2 linked regions of the Homo sapiens genome follow. Changing the gene in region 1 together with any one later gene gives a genetic interaction. Each region holds a gene or a part of one and is shown on either strand. Other genes may lie near its edges.

What was found. A genetic interaction does not mean that the proteins touch.
Region 2: changes in E2F4 (region 1) and NOD2 together harm fitness more than expected from each alone (negative genetic interaction), as found in Homo sapiens cells (one study listed by BioGRID).

The regions. Positions count from the first base shown.
Region 1 is NC_000016.10:67,187,239-67,196,102, reverse strand, and holds the start of E2F4 (transcription factor E2F4), read right to left. Parts: upstream 3,949-8,864; 5' UTR 3,876-3,948; coding exon 3,741-3,875; intron 3,343-3,740; coding exon 3,233-3,342; intron 3,095-3,232; coding exon 2,933-3,094; intron 2,632-2,932; coding exon 2,588-2,631; intron 1,706-2,587; coding exon 1,644-1,705; intron 1,418-1,643; coding exon 1,123-1,417; intron 322-1,122; coding exon 97-321; intron 1-96. Other genes in the region: EXOC3L1 (exocyst complex component 3-like protein), read left to right, coding at 6,427-6,472, 6,923-7,083, 7,163-7,382, 8,266-8,864. UniProt on the Homo sapiens protein: Transcription activator that binds DNA cooperatively with DP proteins through the E2 recognition site, 5'-TTTC[CG]CGC-3' found in the promoter region of a number of genes whose products are involved in cell cycle regulation or in DNA replication.
Region 2 is NC_000016.10:50,717,579-50,725,681, reverse strand, and holds part of NOD2 (nucleotide-binding oligomerization domain-containing protein 2), read right to left. Parts: intron 5,758-8,103; coding exon 5,674-5,757; intron 3,061-5,673; coding exon 2,977-3,060; intron 2,382-2,976; coding exon 2,298-2,381; intron 194-2,297; coding exon 110-193; intron 1-109. UniProt on the Homo sapiens protein: Pattern recognition receptor (PRR) that detects bacterial peptidoglycan fragments and other danger signals and plays an important role in gastrointestinal immunity.

The sequences.
Region 1 (8,864 bases):
CAGGAGATCTGGGTTCCATCCCCAATTCTGTTTTCTGACCTAGGACTGGACTGAGGCTAGACTCTCTCTCTCTGCCCCCAGGGGGCAGGTACTCACCACCTGTGGGGTCTGCCTTGATGGGCTCAAAGGAGGTAGAAGGGTTGGGTCCGGACGAACTGCTGCTGTTACTGTTGCTGCTGCTGCTGCTGCTGCTGCTGCTGCTGCTGCTGCTGTCCAGCAGGGCAGAAGACTGCAGTGGCCGGGTGTCCAGTGTTGTTGGGCCCAGTGGGAGTGAACTGAGCTCACCACTGTCCTTGCTATCAGTCCCAGGGCCGCCACTCACTACAATGATAGCCCCCAAACCCAGTCATACAAGGTCAGGAAGAGGTCGTTGAAACTGGCTGTGCTGGAACCCAGACACAGGAGGACCACAAGCCTGGTTCCCAGACCCAAGGAGAATTAGGCATTGCCAGTCACCCCCAGAGGAAGTAACCTGAAATTAGTCACCACAGGAGACAGGGACACAAGACCTACAGAAGAAGACTCGTGGTCAACATGTCTGCTGTGGCCATACTTCAAGACGGGCTACCAGGGCAATTGAGACACCAGTGGATGTGGATCTGGGGGAGAAAACTGCCACCAGCAATGGCTCTTCCCACAGTCAGAGGTTCCCTGTTAAAAAGGGCCCATTCAGGCAGGCATGGTGGTTCAAGCCTGTAATCCCAGCACTACAGGAGGCCGAGGCAGGCAGATCATTTGAGGTCAGGAGTTCGAAACCAGCCTGGCCAACATGGTGAAACCCCATCTCTATTAGAAGTACGAGAATTAGCTGCGCATGGTGGGCGCCTGTAATCCCAGCTACTCAGGAGGCTAAGGCAGGAAAATTTCTTGAGCTTGGGAGGCAGAGGTTGCAGTGAGCCAAGATCGCGCCATTGCACACTCCAGCCTGGGGGACACAGTGAGACTCCGTCTCAAAAACAAAAACAAAAAAGGCTCATTCATTACCATAGCAAGGGAAGGCTAGGTGGTCAGGAAAAGGACAATCCCCAACCTGAAGAGTCTCTTCCAACTCTGAGCATGGTGTTCCACAACACAGAGATACTACCTCTTGGGCCTCTGTCACAAGCTCCCATGGTGCCTCACCTGTGATCTCAGCTGCTGGGCCAGCCATTCCCTGGACTTCTGCACTGCCAGGGACAGCAGTGGGAGTGAGCTGAGGACTATTTGGACGTGAGGCTTCCTGGGACTGGGCTAGGGCAGGCTTGGGCAGAGGTGGAGGTGTAGAAACAGCAGATGGGCTCTGGAGCAAATCTTCAGGTGGTGGCACAGGCACAGCCACAGGGGGTGAGCTCCATGCCTCCTTGTTCACCAGCAGAACCTCAATGGGACCACTCACACTCTTCAGGTGAATCTGGTACTTCTTCTGCCCATTGAGACCCTAGAGATGGGTGGTAAGGGATGGGAGATGGGTAGAATTGTAAGCAGGCTTGGCTCCTGCCCGACTCCGGGTCAGGACCACAGTGTCCTCTCCCACCCAGGATGCCCATCCTCCTAGATAACCCCAAACTCCAGGCCTCCCCCTACTTGCCCCACCCAGGACTTATCAGGCTCCACAGCCAGCACCCGCCCTCAGCTGACCCCGCCTGCCTGGGCTAAGCACCCACCTCTGGGATGGGCACCTCCAGGCTGGTGCCTGATGGGGCCCGGATGGCCAAGAGGGTATCTCCTAGAATGACATGGAGAATGGGTCAGAGCCCATGGGCTCAATCTGAGCTGGGAACAGAGGTGCCTGCCTTTTGGAGCAAGGCAGGAGATCACGGTCCCTGAGGAACTAGACAGTGGGCCTCACCCATCCCCCATAGTGGCCAGGCAGAGCTAAAGCTCTTCTCTTCCTGAGAGCCCAGGGTCAGTAACCAGGAAATCTGGGTTCAATTATGTGGAGTGAAAGATCACTGGCCACAGGCACCTCATTCCTCTACCGATGGCTGATCCCTAGGTGAGGGTGTTCTAGCCAAGGCCAACATCCCTTTCCCATGACCAGTCAGGAGCATACAAGATGGAGAAGAAACACATCAGCGGGGCACAGTGGCTCACACCCATAATCCCAGCACTTTAGGGGGTTGAGGAGGGAAGACAGCTTGAGCTCAGGAGTTCAAGACCAGCCTGGGCAACACAGCAAGAGCCCATCTCTTAAAAAGAAAAAAAAAGGAACAGATCCTGTATTCACAATGCAACTAAACTAACAAGTTGGAAGTGGGCACCCCCATGCCCTGCATGTAAGAGCCTGCACACAAGCAAATACACACATATCCTCTCTCCCTCTCTCCCCCTTGTGCCTCTATCATACCCAAGAAGCCAAATCCAGGAAACAGTAGAGATGGGAACAGACCCAGGGACCCACTCCAGAATTTCTGTACCCTTTTGGTATAGCTGACCTCCACAGGGTCCCAGTGACACTCAGACAGAAGACTTACCCTGCCTGGTTCCTCTCTGAGCAGGCCCCAGAAACCCTCTTAAGAGACAGAACTCTCCTAAGACACTGAGCCCAGTGCTCAGGACTTTGGCTGAGCCCAGCCCACCCCCTTACCCCTACCCAGGCTCTGCTCACCAGCAAAGCATCTGCAGATGTCCTCATGAGTGACGTAGGCCAAAGTGTGAGGGTTAAGGAGAATGGCTGATGCCCTATGGTGACAGATGGCAGACTACAGAAAAGACCCAATTCTTTAGCTAAGGTCTGACACACAGGCCCTCAGAGACCGTTCTGGGGACTCAGGTCCACCGGGGGAGGGATCACAGGCTAAGAGTGGAAGGGGAGGGGCTCTGAGGAGGGAGCCTGAGGCTGGGCCATGGCCAGTGGCTATAAGACAAACTCCCAAGAGGAACAGGACTCAGGGCAAGTTGAACCAGAGGGCCCCTTGCCCACTCCCCCCAGCAGGGACCGCCAGGAGGATATCAGCTGTTCTGCACGTCCTCTGTGACGTTCCGGATGCTCTGCTGCACCCACACCTTGTGCTGGTCTAGTTCTTGCTCCCGCTGCTGCAGCTCCTCGATCTCTGCCTTGAGCTCAATCAGTTTGTCAGCAATCTCCCGGGTATTGCAGCCAGGCCCCACACCCCTGAGCCCAGGGAGTGGGGCTGAGAGGGACTGCTGAGAACTCTGGGTCCCATGGCCCCTGCCTTCTTCGGCACCCTCCACCCCACGCCCGACACTTCTGGGTGGGAGACTCTACTACCCTCCCACTATGCCCACTCACTTCCACTGGATGCTGTTCTTGGACTTTTTCTCGATTAGCCCGATACCTTCCAAAACATTGGTAATGTCGTAAATCCGCCGCTTCTGGCGTACAGCTAGGGTGTCAGCTGCCTGGCAGAGAGAATGGAGAATGCTCAGCCCCACTCTGGGGTGTACCCCCAGCCACCCTGAGACGTGGTCTGGGAAGGGAGTAATCTGGATTCCAACCCTGTAGTGCCTCCCAGGCGCTACTGCAGCTCAGGACCGCAGCTCTGTCCCATAGGCAGCTCTTCTCCTCGCCAGCCAGGAAGGGCCACGAGGACGAACACCTGCAGCCCGAGCCTGGCCCATAGCTGTAGCTCGATGGCCTCGGCCGAATGAATGAAACATCCCCCGGCTTCTCTCCTGTGAGAAAGCACACGATGGCGGCCGGCTCTCGGAGGACCCAGCTGGGCCGCCCCCGGGGTTCCCGCTACCGGCCCAGGCCTGGTCCACCAGCCTCCCTTGTCTCCCCTTAGCCCAGGCCGCACCAGCTTGAGGTCAAGCACGCCGTCCTTGGCCTCCTGCAGAAGGGACACGAACTTGGTGGTGAGCAGTCCCAGGCTCTTTTCGTGCCGGCTTGGAGTGCCCGGGGGCGGCGGCGCCTGTGGCCCGGCCTCCGCCATCGCGCCCGCCCGCCGCCTCCCCTCAGCCAGGCCAGGCCAGGCCGGCGCCGCCGCCACTTCCGCTTCCGTTCCTGGCCGCCGGGCAGCCGGAGCCAGCGTTACTGCTTCCGCTTCCGTCCCGTGCGCCTTCCAGGGAACGTGGCGCTATTGCTGTCTGTGGGTGCAGCCGCAAAACTTCAGGGACCAGTAGCAAATGTCCAGCCTCCGAATAAGACGAAAACTACCTGGGTAGACCGGGGAGTTGGGATGAAGTTGGGGAGGAATGAGAAGGGCGTCAGTGGGCCGCCCTGGCAGTAGAGAAGGGGACGCCATCGGAACTTTCCTTGCCAATCTGCCCCAACATCACTAACTCTGCCTAGTCCCCATCTTGGGAGAGGAGACCACACTACCTGACTAATCCAATCTGCTCCCTCAAACCTGTTCCTTTTCCATTTTTTTCTCTTTATTTATTCTTTTATATATTTCAAACTCATTTTACTGCCACATCAAACCTGTTCCTAAAGGCTGCCCTACTGTCTTGGGGTCACCCCATCTATTCCTATCCCTCACTTCCTGCCAAACAGCAAGCACTAACTATATCTACCTTGTCCACCTTGTTCCACCCATGGTCCTAGCCTCATCTTTCGCTCGTCTTGTCCTCACAGTACAGTGCTCAGAGACTATGGGGTTATGAACACTTCAGCCAATGCAAACGTGTTTACCTATGTGTAAATATCAGTAAAGCACTCAGTCATTCCTGGCATGCAGGAATGTGTGATACGGTCATTTTGTAACTTTTAACATTGTTACTATTTATTATTGTTTCTTTTAGATCAGGTCCTCTGGGAAATGGGACTCGAGATAGGGTTTTGCAGCAAGTTTGTTGGGGATCCACACTTTTTTTTTTTGAGACAGGGTCTCACTCTGTTGCCCAGGCCGGAGTGCAGTGGCAAGATCAATGCCGTCTCAGCTTCCTGGGCCCAAGCGATTCTCCCACCTCAGCCTCCCAAGTAGCTGGGACCACAGGCATGCACCACCATGCCCGGCTCATTTATTTTTAGTTTTTTAGAGATGTGGGTCTCACTATATTGCCCAGGCTAGTCTTGAACTCGTGGGCTCAAGAGATCCTCCCACCTCAGCCTCCCAGAATGCTGGGATGACCGGTGTGAGCCACCGCACCTGGTCAGGATCCACACCTTTAAGGGATTAAGACAAGCAGAATTGAGCAGATGCAATTATATTATAGGCCTCAGCCTATCCCACTAGGATCTCTGAAATTGGGGTAGCACTTCTGAAGGGTTCATGTTCACACGATGGTACCATGCTTTTGCACCCCAATATTGACTGAGAGACTCAGTGGTGTGATCTCAGTAGCCTACACTCCTGGCAGCTGGAGAATGAGCACTTCTGTCCTGAAGGGTGGATTTGGGTGGTGGACTGAACATCCACTAAATAATTACCACCTTATAGTCCCTTCCCTGGCTCCCTATAACTCTCAAGATAAACACAGCTGCCCAGTTGCGGTGACTCACGCCTGTAATCTCCCAACACTTTGGGAGGCTGAGGCAGGCAGATCGCTTGAGCCCAGAAGGCTGCAGTGAGCTATGGTGGTGCCACTGTACTCCAGCCTTGGTGACAGATCAAGACCCTGTCTAAAACAAAAAAGATAAACACAGCTTTCATGACCCTCTCCTACCACCCCCCACCACACCCCTCTTCACAAGAGCCTGCCACCTCTCACTCCTCCGCAGAGGTACACATCCTCCTCAGAGGCTGGCCAACACAGTTTTCATCCTGTGCTGTTGATGTCGTCTGCATCCATATCTGCACACTCTGCCCACCACCCCAGGTTGAGGCCAAGTCTAGCAAATCCCTATCTCCTCTCCTGAGCACTAAGAGGTTCTGGGTAGGCTGGTCAAGACTGGTTGAGTACAAGTACACCCCACCCCCCCGCCCCTCAGGGAAGTGTCGCCCAGCTGTCCCCACCCTCTGTGCAGACACTCTTTCCTGTTGGGAATAAAATGCCAGAGACTCAGCTTCCTTCCTTTCTGTTGATGGCCTTGGGGAGGGAGGAGCCTCGGTGGGAAGAAGGGGCTTCTGGGTGGGGAGTGGGAGAGAGACTTCCTTGGGGAGAGGAATTCAGCTGCACGCTGGAGTCAGCTGGAGTTGCCCAGGCCCTGTGAGCAAGTGGCAGGCGTGCCCAGCTGCATTGGGGAGAGGGCTGTTCTCAAGGCCAAGGTCATTTTTGGAGGGAGAACTGGACGCCTGATCAAATCTGGTAAGTTCTGTACCAAACTGTCCTGTGCAGCTCAGAGCAGGACCAGGGTCCAGTGGAGGCCTGTGCCCACTCTGTCTCGCTTGACATCTGCAGGGGCACGACTGGGAAACCTAGCAGGCAAAGCCTCCCAGGTGCCCTCCGCATCACACCCGCTCCCTCTCACTTCCCGAGGGGGCCGGGAAGAACCTCCTTCCTCCTCTCAGAAGGGCTTAGACAGAGGCAGCAGCTCACAGGGGCATCTACTCTGCCTGCTTGCCCCGGGCCCACCTCAGCTCTGGCTCCTCCAGGCCCACAATGGACTCAGCAGCCAAGGATGAGATGCAGCCGGCGTTGTCCCCTGGTATGAACCTTTTGGGTGGACTAGGGGAGGAATGATGGCAACAAAGATGGGACTGGCTGGGCGCAGTGGCTCACGCCTGTAATCCCAACACTTTGGGAGGTCAAGATGGGCAGATGACCTGAGGTCAGGAGCTCCAAACCAACCTGGCCAACATAGTGAAACCCCGTCTCTACTAAAAATACAAAAACTAGCTGGGCGTGATGGCACGCGCCTGTAATCCCAGCTCCTCGGGAGACTGAGGCAGGAGAATCGCTTGAACCCGGGAGGCGGAGGTTACAGGGACCCGAGATTGCACCACTGCACTCCAGCCTGGGCAACAGAGCGAGACTCCATCTCAATAAACAAATAAACAAACAAATAAATAAATAAATAAATAAATAAGAAAGCTGGGACTGGGGTCGTTGGGCCCTCCTCCCTGACTACACGGCTGCCCAGGCTCTTCCTTCCCAGGACCTGAGTGGCCAGAGCAGGAGCGGGCAGAGCAGCTGGCCCGGGGTGCAGCGCTCAAGTGGGCCTCAGGCATCTTCTACCGGCCGGAGCAGCTGGCCAGGCTAGGCCAGTACCGCAGCCGCGAGGTGCAGCGTACCTGCTCCCTGGAATCGCGCCTCAAGGTGGGCATGGGGCAGGGGGTGCGGGTGCTGGGACTGTGCTGCAGGGCTGGCCCAGCCTCATGGCTCCATCTTTCCACAGTCAGTGATGCAGTCATACCTGGAAGGCGTGCAGACTGGTGTGTGGCAGCTGGCCCAGGCCATTGAGGTGGTGCAGGGAACCCGGGAGGCCCTGAGCCAGGCCCGTGGGTTGCTCCAGGGCATGTCCCAGGCCTTACAGACTCTAGAGCCCCTACGGGAGCGGGTTGCCCAGCACAAGCAACTGCAGGCCCTGTCTCACCTGCTGCCTCGGCTGCGGGCAGGTGAGCATGCAGGGACCCTGGGCCTCAGCCTCCAATAGTCAGTCCACAAACACCCATCCCTAATCAAGGGGCTGGGGCACTAGATGGGGAACTGCATAGAGCAGCACACCAGGGACCTCCCAGACAGTAGCCCGGGCTTCCCATGGCCTATGAGGCAGCTCATCCTGGGATTCCCACGTGTGGGATGCTTGAGTCAGGACAGACACCCAGTCATGTGACTCTGGCCACCTGGTTATCAGTATATTCAAACTCTTCCCTAACAGAGTGGCTGAGCGAGTACTGGCAGGACCCCCCGATTTCCCCTGCCTTCCCTCCAGGATCCTCAGCTTCCTCATATTCCATGAGTTCATGGGTTGACCTCTGGCCCACCAGGTCTTTAGGACATTGCCAAGATCCTCTTAGATTGGCCAGTACTCTACTGGTTATTTATTTATTTATTTATGGTTTTTTGTTCATTTTTTGTTTTGTTTTGTTTTTGAAACAGAGTCTCACTCTGTCACCCAGGCTGGAGTGCAGTGGTGTGATCTCGGCTCACTGCAACCTCCATATCCCAGGTTCAAGCAATCCTCCTGCCTCAGCCTCCCCAGTAGCTGGGATTACAGGCATGTGCCACCATGCCTGGCTAATTTTTGTATTTTTAGTAGAGATGGGATTTCACCATGTTGGCCGGGCTGGTCTCAAACTCCTGACCTCAAGTGATTCACCCACGTTGGCCTCCCGAAGTGCTGGGATTACAGGCATGAGCCACTGTGCCCAGCTTACTCTACTGGTTGTTAAATATTTTATGCATCACCCCCGCCCTGGGCCTCAGTATCCCCTGCTGTACACATTGAGGCGGTGGGAAGGCTGAGACCCAGGGCCGTCTCCTTTTCACTCTCATTAGTGCCGGCTGCAGTGTCCCACACACAGACTCTGATTGATGGCCAACAGTTCTTGGAGGCATATGTGAGCCTTCGGGAGCTGGAGCAGCTGCGAGAGGATACGTGGGCACCCCTGGGGGGCCTGGAGTTGCCAGTCTTCCAGGGGCTGGACCTTCTGTTCGAGGCACTGGGCCAGGCTGTGGAAGCAGCTGCAGGGGCCGCAGGGAAGCTGGCACGGGAGGACCCAGCCCTGTTGGTGGCTGCTGTGCGTGTGGCGGAGGTGGAGACTGGACGAACAACCCCCCTGGGCCAGGTCCCCCGGGACTGGCGTCAGCGCTGTCTGAGGGCACTACAGGAGGGCCTGGAGCAGGCCCACTTTGGGTCACCTCTGCTGCCTGCACCAGGGGCCCTACCAGGGTGGCTGGAGGCTCTGCGAGTGGCCCTGCCAGTCGAGTTGGCCACAGCTGAGGCACTAGTAGCGCCTTGCTGCCCGCCACAGTACAACGTGGTCCAGCTATGGGCCCACACGCTGCATAGTGGTTTGCGCCGCAGCCTGCAGAACCTCCTTGCAGGGCCTGAGCTAGAAGCTGCGGATGCCTTCGCCTTGCTGCACTGGGCACTG
Region 2 (8,103 bases), about 16 Mb from region 1:
GCCACCTCACATGAGTTAGCCCAGCGGAGAGCGGCCCAGATCTTATTCAGAAATGCCCCTTCCAAAGGCCAGCAATTATTGTCCTGTTTCCTGCTTATGGGTTCCTTACTTCAGGATTTTCAAACTTGAATTTTTCTTCAGTCCTTCTGCGAGAGAACATACACCTTCATCCTGGAGATGGTTCTCCTCCAGGCTGGTGAGAAGAAGAGAGAAAATCCAGTTGATACAACATTGATTATGGAAGATGATGAACTCACATGCCCCCCATATAGGAAATCCAACATCTGAAAACCCAAACTCATGGATAAAGAAAGAACAGATAAAGTACGTTGTGGGGATTCTCAATTCCAGGGACATATTTGCAAGAGAATTCACTCCAAGGGCTCTCAATGTAATAAGTTCCCTGATCCCCCAGCTTCCTGATCTCCATCTTTCCTTTCTTCCTTATTAATGGAAGTCTCATTTCATTTGGACAGCCATGCACTTGGTGAAAAAACTGTATTTCCCACTCTCCATTGCAGCCAGGGCTGGTCAAACAACATACAAGTGGGTTGGTCAAGTGACATACACATGGTTGATACATAAGGGGAAGTCGACAGGTGGGGCTTCCAGGAATGCTTTTTAAAGGAGAGAACCCAGATGGCTTTCCTGGGTATATAGATCGAATCCGGGAATACAGAAGTAGTGCTGCACCTGGAGCAGCCATCCTGTGATCATGAGACAACCAACCATGTGAATGAAGTCACAGGCTAAGAATGATGGAACAGGAAGAGAATGAGACAGAGCTGAGACCCCTCCTGGCCTCTTGTAGCCACTGTACAAACCCTACACTGCCTACATCCAGCTGCCTATACAGGAAAAAATAAACCCTTTCCTTGTTTAAACCTCTATAGATGGAGGTATTCTGTCACCTGCAGCTTAACATATAGTTAAACTAAATTTGGCCTGAGACTGCCTCTGTACTTTGAGTTCCTATGTAGCAAACTGCAACCTAACAACATATCCTTATAACAAACAGCTAAGTCTTAGCCAATCACAGCAGCCAGGCTTCAGTCAGTCACAGTCTACCAGCTGATCAGTCTATATCCATATAAAGAAAATGCCTCATCACACCATGCCCATATAAGGCAAATGCCCAGCTGCAACCAATCAAGCTGTTTTGTACATCACTTCCTTTTCCTGTCTATAGATACTGCTTGCCTACCTTGCTGGGTGGAGCACTCCCAGTTCTGAATGCTGCCCAATTCATAAATTGCTGTATGTTCAAACCAGTTCTGCTAAATTTAATTTGCCTAAAGTTTTTCTTTTAACAGTAATCATAACTGATGCTCTCATAACAAGGTTCTCCTCTACTAAGAAATTCCAAGTGGCAAAATCCAGTCAGGATAGAATCAATCATACTTGAGTAGAGCTAGTAAGCCCTGCAACAGCCAAGGTCCATCCATAAAATCTGTTTATGGCAATGCCCATATGTTGCAGTGCCTTTCTGCTTCCCGGGAAAATCAAACATTCAGTATTTTATCTCCCTGACATAATCTGAAGCTGCCCAGAACATGTCAGAAAACTATACTAGTGGCATCTAAAGGATGAGAAACTTAGAATCTGCTTCAGGTCAACAGTATAAGCATGATTCATGGTTCCTCTTTCAACTATCAAAACTCCATTACACCTTCCAAAATGACCTAAGACTTGAATACCCAGTGCTCCTAGGAACTCAAAATCACTTTAAAATAACAAAACTTTATTAGTAGTAGTAGTCACAGTACTATAGTAGTTGTAGCAGCAGCAGCAGCAGCAGCAGCAGTAATAGTAGTAGTAACCCTGCCATTATTCTAATTTAACATTTATGGAGCACTTACAAATATGCCAGGCACTATATTAAGGTCTTCACAGGCACTACTTTATCTAATTCTTGCAAAAATCCTTTATGGTTGGAAGTATTCTTACCCTCATTTTACAGACATGAAACTTGAGATTCTGAAATTGTTATTTAACTTGCCTAAGATCACGGCCTGCTTGATTACAGAGTCTGTGCTCTTAACACTTATGCCATGTGGAGGCAGTCACCAAACCAGCAAACCCATATATTTTATTAAATAAAAAAATTAGCATGTACATACCAGGCTCTATAAGCTTCATACCACTCAGTACATATAAAGACAAACACAATCAATCAATCAGTCAATCACTCAATCATCCACCTTTGTCTGTCCACACAACCGCTCCTATGGATGAGGCCAGGGGATCAACAGAGATTGTGATCCACTTCCCCAGAGCAGAGAATCCCCCAAACTCACCAGAGTTCTTCTAGCATGACGTTCTTTGCCAGCATCAGTGCCAAGGCTTGGGCACCCACACTGCCAATGTTGTTCCCCACCAGGCTGGAGGTAATCATGGAACAAAAGTATGTCAGAGCAGGGAAAGACCTCAGAGATGAGCTAACCTATGGAGGGCAAAATTCGTGGTGCTCTCCTGGTCTGCTCCATTTCAGACATCACTAATTGATTGCGGTGCTCTTTCTTTTTTCTTTTTTTTTTTTTTTCTACCCTTTTTAGACATCACTAATTGAATGCAGTGCTCTTTTTTTTTTTTTTTTAGCTTTTTTAGACATCACTAATTGATTATAGTGCTCTTCTTTAAGCCCAGGTGCAGCCTTAGAATTCTTTTTAATGTGGTGCACTGGGCACCCACTACCAATGGATTGGAATTGGTCCTTAAGATAAAATGTACCTGATCCAGCCCAATATCTTCAATTTACAGATACTGTATCAAAACCCTGAGAGGACAAGGGACATTTCCAAGTCACCCAGAAAGACTCGAGTGTCCTCTCTTGAAATCCAATGGTCTTTTTTCCTTACTCCATTGCCTAACATTGTGGGGTAGAAATAAAGTTCAAAGACCTTCAGAACTGGCCCCAGCTCCTCCCTCTTCACCTGATCTCCCCAAGAAAACTGCAGGATAGACTCTGAAGCTTACCTGAGCCACCTCAAGCTCTGGTGATCACCCAAGGCTTCAGCCAGGGCCTGGGCCCCCTCGTCACCCACTCTGTTGCCCCAGAATCTGAAAAGGCCAAAAGAGTCAACAGACAGTGTCAGTGAGTACCTGATATGTGTTCTAGACATGAACTAACAGTCCTCCTCCCTCTGCAGTCCCAGCCAGAGGGGCAGGACCACTCAATCCCAGAGTGGCCTCACTGGGGCTCCTGGTCCCAGCAAAGTGGACCTGCCTCCATCTTTTGGGTGGGATGGCCAAACTTAACCCAAGAGTTTTCAGTGGCTTTACATTACAGACTTAGAGAATAGTAGAGGGCTACCCAGCCCTAACCCTTAAGGACAGGAACTCACTGACAAGAGTAATTTACAGTTGTGACACTTTTTCTGACACTTAGTTCAGATACGCTTCCTGGTAACTGCCACCCACAAGTCCTTAGCTACCCTCCAGTACCTGCCCATAACAAGTCTAACACTTCTTCTGCAAGCTAGCTCTTTATCTCCTGCTTCTTCCTAACACCCCTAATTCCTTCACGCCATCAGCTTCAACTCCCCCAGCTTCTGGGCCATCCTCCTCTGACTCACTGTAGTTTGAAAACATCCCTTTCCAAAAGGTAGATCCCAACTCACACCTTCTGACTTATTGACTGTATTCTAGGGACCTACCCTGGACAGGTATGTACACAAGTTAGCAAAGAATGGCTGAATTAGGATGTCCACTGTACTTTCATTCATTAGGTATGTATCGATTGAGCTCTGGCTATGTGCCAGCACTGCTCTGTGCCCCAGGGATATGACACTGTAATAACAAAAAACCTGAAAACAACTTAATAGTCATCAAAAAGTGACCAGTTAAATACATTATGTAACACTCTGCAGCTCTTTGAAAAATGAGGTCAGGCTGAGCAAGGTGGCTCACTTGTGTAATCCCAATACTTTGGGAGGCAAAGGAGGGAGGATCACCTGAGCCCAGGAGTTTGAGACCAGCCTGGGCAACATAGTGAGACCCCGTCTCTACAAAACATAAAAATATCGGCCAGGCATGGTGGCTTGTGCCTGTAGTCCCAGCTACTCAGGAGGCCGAGGTAGGAAGATCACTTGAGCTCAGGAGTTCAAGGCTACAATGAGCTATGATTGCAACCACTGCACTCCAGCCTGGGTGACAGAGTGAGACCCTTTCTGTAAATATTAGTAAAATAAATAAATAGATAATTAAGTAAATAAAGAGGTCATAATGACCTAAAAAAATTCCTATAATATATGGCGAAGCAAAAAAAAACAACAACAAAAACAAAACAAAACAAACAAACAAACAAAAAAAAAAACCAAGCAAGTTACAGAACACTTTGTATCATATGACAGCGTTTGGGGGTTTTAGCACAACGCCTGGCCCAGACAGGTGCCCTAATAAATATGTGTTGAAAGAGGTAAATACCCCTGATGTGGCAGATGTGACCTCAAGCAGAAGAGAGTTCAGTGGGGCTGTGGCCTCCTTTGTTCTAGACTCTGTTGCTACTAATGCAGTGTGGAAAAGATGTTGATTTCTAGAGCAACATAGTCCCATTTGTGGCTCAAACTGAGCTTGGGGGCCGGGTGCGGTGGCTCACACCTGTAATCCCAGCACTTTGGGAGGCCGAGGCGGGCGGATCATCTGAGATCAGGAGTTCAAGACCAGCCGGGCCAACATGGTGAAACCCTGTCTCTACTAAAAATACAAAAATTAGCTGGGCGTGGTGGTGGGTGCCTATAATCCCAGCTACTTGAGAAGCTGAGGCAGGTGAATCGCTTGAACCAAGGAGGCGGAGGTTGCAGTGAGCCAAGATCGTGCCACTGCACTCTAGCCTGGGCAACAGAGTGAGACTACATCTCAAACAAAACAAAACAAAACAAAAAACTGAGCTTGGGGGCAACTTGCCTCCCTGTGAAATGGGCTGGAACACCTAGGCCCTAAGGTTATTCTCTCTTCCTACAGTCCCAGGTTCTAAAACTCCCAGTTCTTGTCAAATGGACTCCAGTTCACACTAGGGCATGACAGGATAGGAGAGAGGCTGCTGGAAACAGCACAGGTGCAAGCCTGGGTGCCTAGCAAACAGAGGAAGCCCACCCTGGGGCTGCAGGTTGGGGTACTCCCCTCCCTGGCAGGCCCTAGCATGGTCCTACAGGGAGCAAGAGCTCCGAGGGACCTAGCACAGCCCCTCTTATCCTGGGTGCCTTCCTATCCTTCCCCATTTCCTTCTCTTTCTTAGGTCAGGGGTCCTCACCCCTGGCTGTACATCCCCTGGGAAGCTTTTTAAAACTCCTGATACCTGGGCCTTGCACCTAGATATTTGCATTTCATCAGTCTGGGGTGGGAGGCCTGGCAATAGTGTTTAGAAGCTTCCAGGTGGTTTTAATATGCAGCTAAAGTACAGCCCTAGCGCCCCCTGAGGATCAGAGGGCTTCCTGTCACCAGCTCGTGGGCACTGTCCTCCCCTAGCCCCAACATCCCAAACTTCCTGTTTGTCAGGCATAGACCAAGTATGAAGGTGGCAGTCAAGGGCCGCCCACTCTCTCCCTGGCTTGTCCTCCCCACTGGAGCTGGGCTGCCTCTGGGGCCTCCTGGCTGAAGAGTTTCACCTGCCCCTAAATCCTCAAAAGTCCCAAGCCCCTCCATGCAGGTCCCTCTTCCTGGAATCCAACCTACCCCAGGAACTGCAAGGAGGTGTTGCCTCGGAGCCCCTCGGCCAGCACTTGGGCTCCCGCGGCAGTGATGTAGTTATTCCCCAGCCTGGAAGGGAAGACAGAGGAGGCTGAGAGAACACAGCGGCAGGCAGAAAAGGAGGGCCGTCTGTGCCCTGGCCAGGGAAACACAGGAAGAAAGCATTGAAGACCTGCCCGGGAGGCAGCAGCCACATCAGGTGCCCTCGCTGCTAGGTCTAGTTTACTCAGCGGCTCCCACAACTTCATTTTCCCCCAGCAAAGGGAAAGGGGCAGCGGGACGCTGTTTGCACAGCAGTGTGACAATTCCAGGCAGGAGCCACAGTAGGCAGCTGTCCTGGGAGGTGGTTTCCCCGGGACAGCGAGGGTGACTCAGGGTCACACCTTTCCCTCTGGTCTCAGCCGCCCTCGATCCAGACCCCATCGTGCCCTCTGCAGCCTTCCCAGATCTGTTGTTGCTACAGGTAGGCTTTACCTGTTGCACAAGAGCGCTGGGCAGGTCCAGGTGGCTGGAGGGAGGGGTGGGGCCCACTGAGCCTTCCAGAAAGGAAGGAGAGAGGGAGGGCCAAGGCTAGGGGTGGGGGAAGATCCCAGCAAGGAAGGCTCCTGCTGCAACTGAATCCAGACACCTCGGAGAGCTTCGGAGAAGCCCCAGAGCTCTCACCTGCAACCCTAGGCTTCCTGGGATAACTATACGCTTTCATTCTTTCAAGGAACGTCAAGCCACTCAGCTCACAACAATCCTATAAGGCAGATATTATTGTATCCTTGGAGAAGGGGTGTGGCAGCTAGGAGAACTCGCCTTTCAGGTCTCCAGCCTCAGCTCCTTGGAGGTAGCCAAGGGCCCCAGCTGCTGTGCTCCAAAATCTAACATCCTCGCATCTGCACTTGCCAGCCCCTGCCTGAGACATCAGGCTCCCCTGCCTGGTGAATTTGGTTCAAGAACTCCTCATCAGCCTTGCCAAGATGTCTTAGGACTGCACTGAAGTCCAAGGTGCCCAGTCTCAACCTTCCTTCCTTCCCTCTCTCCTTCACTCAGGGACACACCTCCCAGCCTCCCCCAGCTCCCTTCCCCACTTCCCCTTTTAGGACTTTTCCCCAATAAATGGGTGGCACATTGAATCCCTGCTTGGAGGACCGGACTCACATAAGGAGAAACAAGCTGAGTGCTTGTGTGATTTACCCATCATCTTTCAGCCACTCGCTTACTATATAAAGCCCCTGCCAGACGGTGCAGCCCTTCATGTGGATTAACTTGCTTGCTCATCACTACAGCCTGTGAGGTAGCCAGGGTTATTACCTCCATTCTACAGAAGGGGAAACGGAGGCACACAGACATTGGGCTGACCTGAGGTCACGCAGCTAATGAGGGTTCAAACCTCGGGCAGTCTGGCTCCAGAGCCTGTGCTCTCTATTACAATGATATACGGTAATCCCTGCCCCCTGCTTATCCGCAGCTTCGCCTTCTATGGTTTCAGTTATCTGAAATCAACTGCAGTCCAAAAATATTAAATGGAAAATTCTAGAGATAAACAATTCATACATTTTAAATTGCATGCTATTCTGATCACGTGCCATCCAGCTCCATCCCACCCAGGACGTGAATCAGCCCCCCGTCCAGCGCATCCACGCTCTATACGCTCCCATTTGGTAATCATCAAGATCGTCTGCTCCTGACATCCAGCTGCCGACCTCATTGTTGCTCAAAGATTAGGGATCTCTGGGAGCAGATGATTCTCCTCCTGAAGTGTGGTCAGGTCAACAGCAGCCCAGCGCTAGAGCACAGTGCTGCATGCGTCATCCACCTCACTTCCTCCCATCACACAGGCATTTTACCACCACACATCTTCCCAAGAAGAAGGGTGAGTACAGTACAAGAAGATATTTTGAGGGAGATGGAGAGAGTCCACATTCACATAGTGTTATTATAGTACATTGATTGTTATAATTGTTCTATTTTATTATGAGTTGCTATTACTCTCTTACTGTGCCTAATTTATAAACTACACTTTATTGCAGGTGTGTAGGTATTGGGAAAAGCATGGTATGTGTAGGGCTTGATACTCTCCATGGTTTCAGGCATCCACTGGGGTCTTAGAACATCTCTCCTGCACATACCGGAGGACTACTGTGTTGGCCACAAACTCAGCCTCCATTTCTGAAACTAGCACCCTTCTCAGGGATGGGCCAGCCAGGTCTGGCCACAGCCTATTCCAGGCTTGTGAGTCTGAGGGATCAGGCAGTGGTAGCAGGACTGAGTCCTTTGTACAAATTGGCACCTGTGGTTCTGATCTCAGTAGCCCTTGCCGAGACTGAGCTATGTGGCCCGCCATTTTAAAATGGCGGCTCCCATCCACAAACCCAGCCCAAGAGGTAAAAGAATAGATGGAAGCAATTCTTTACTTTGTCTTTTTTT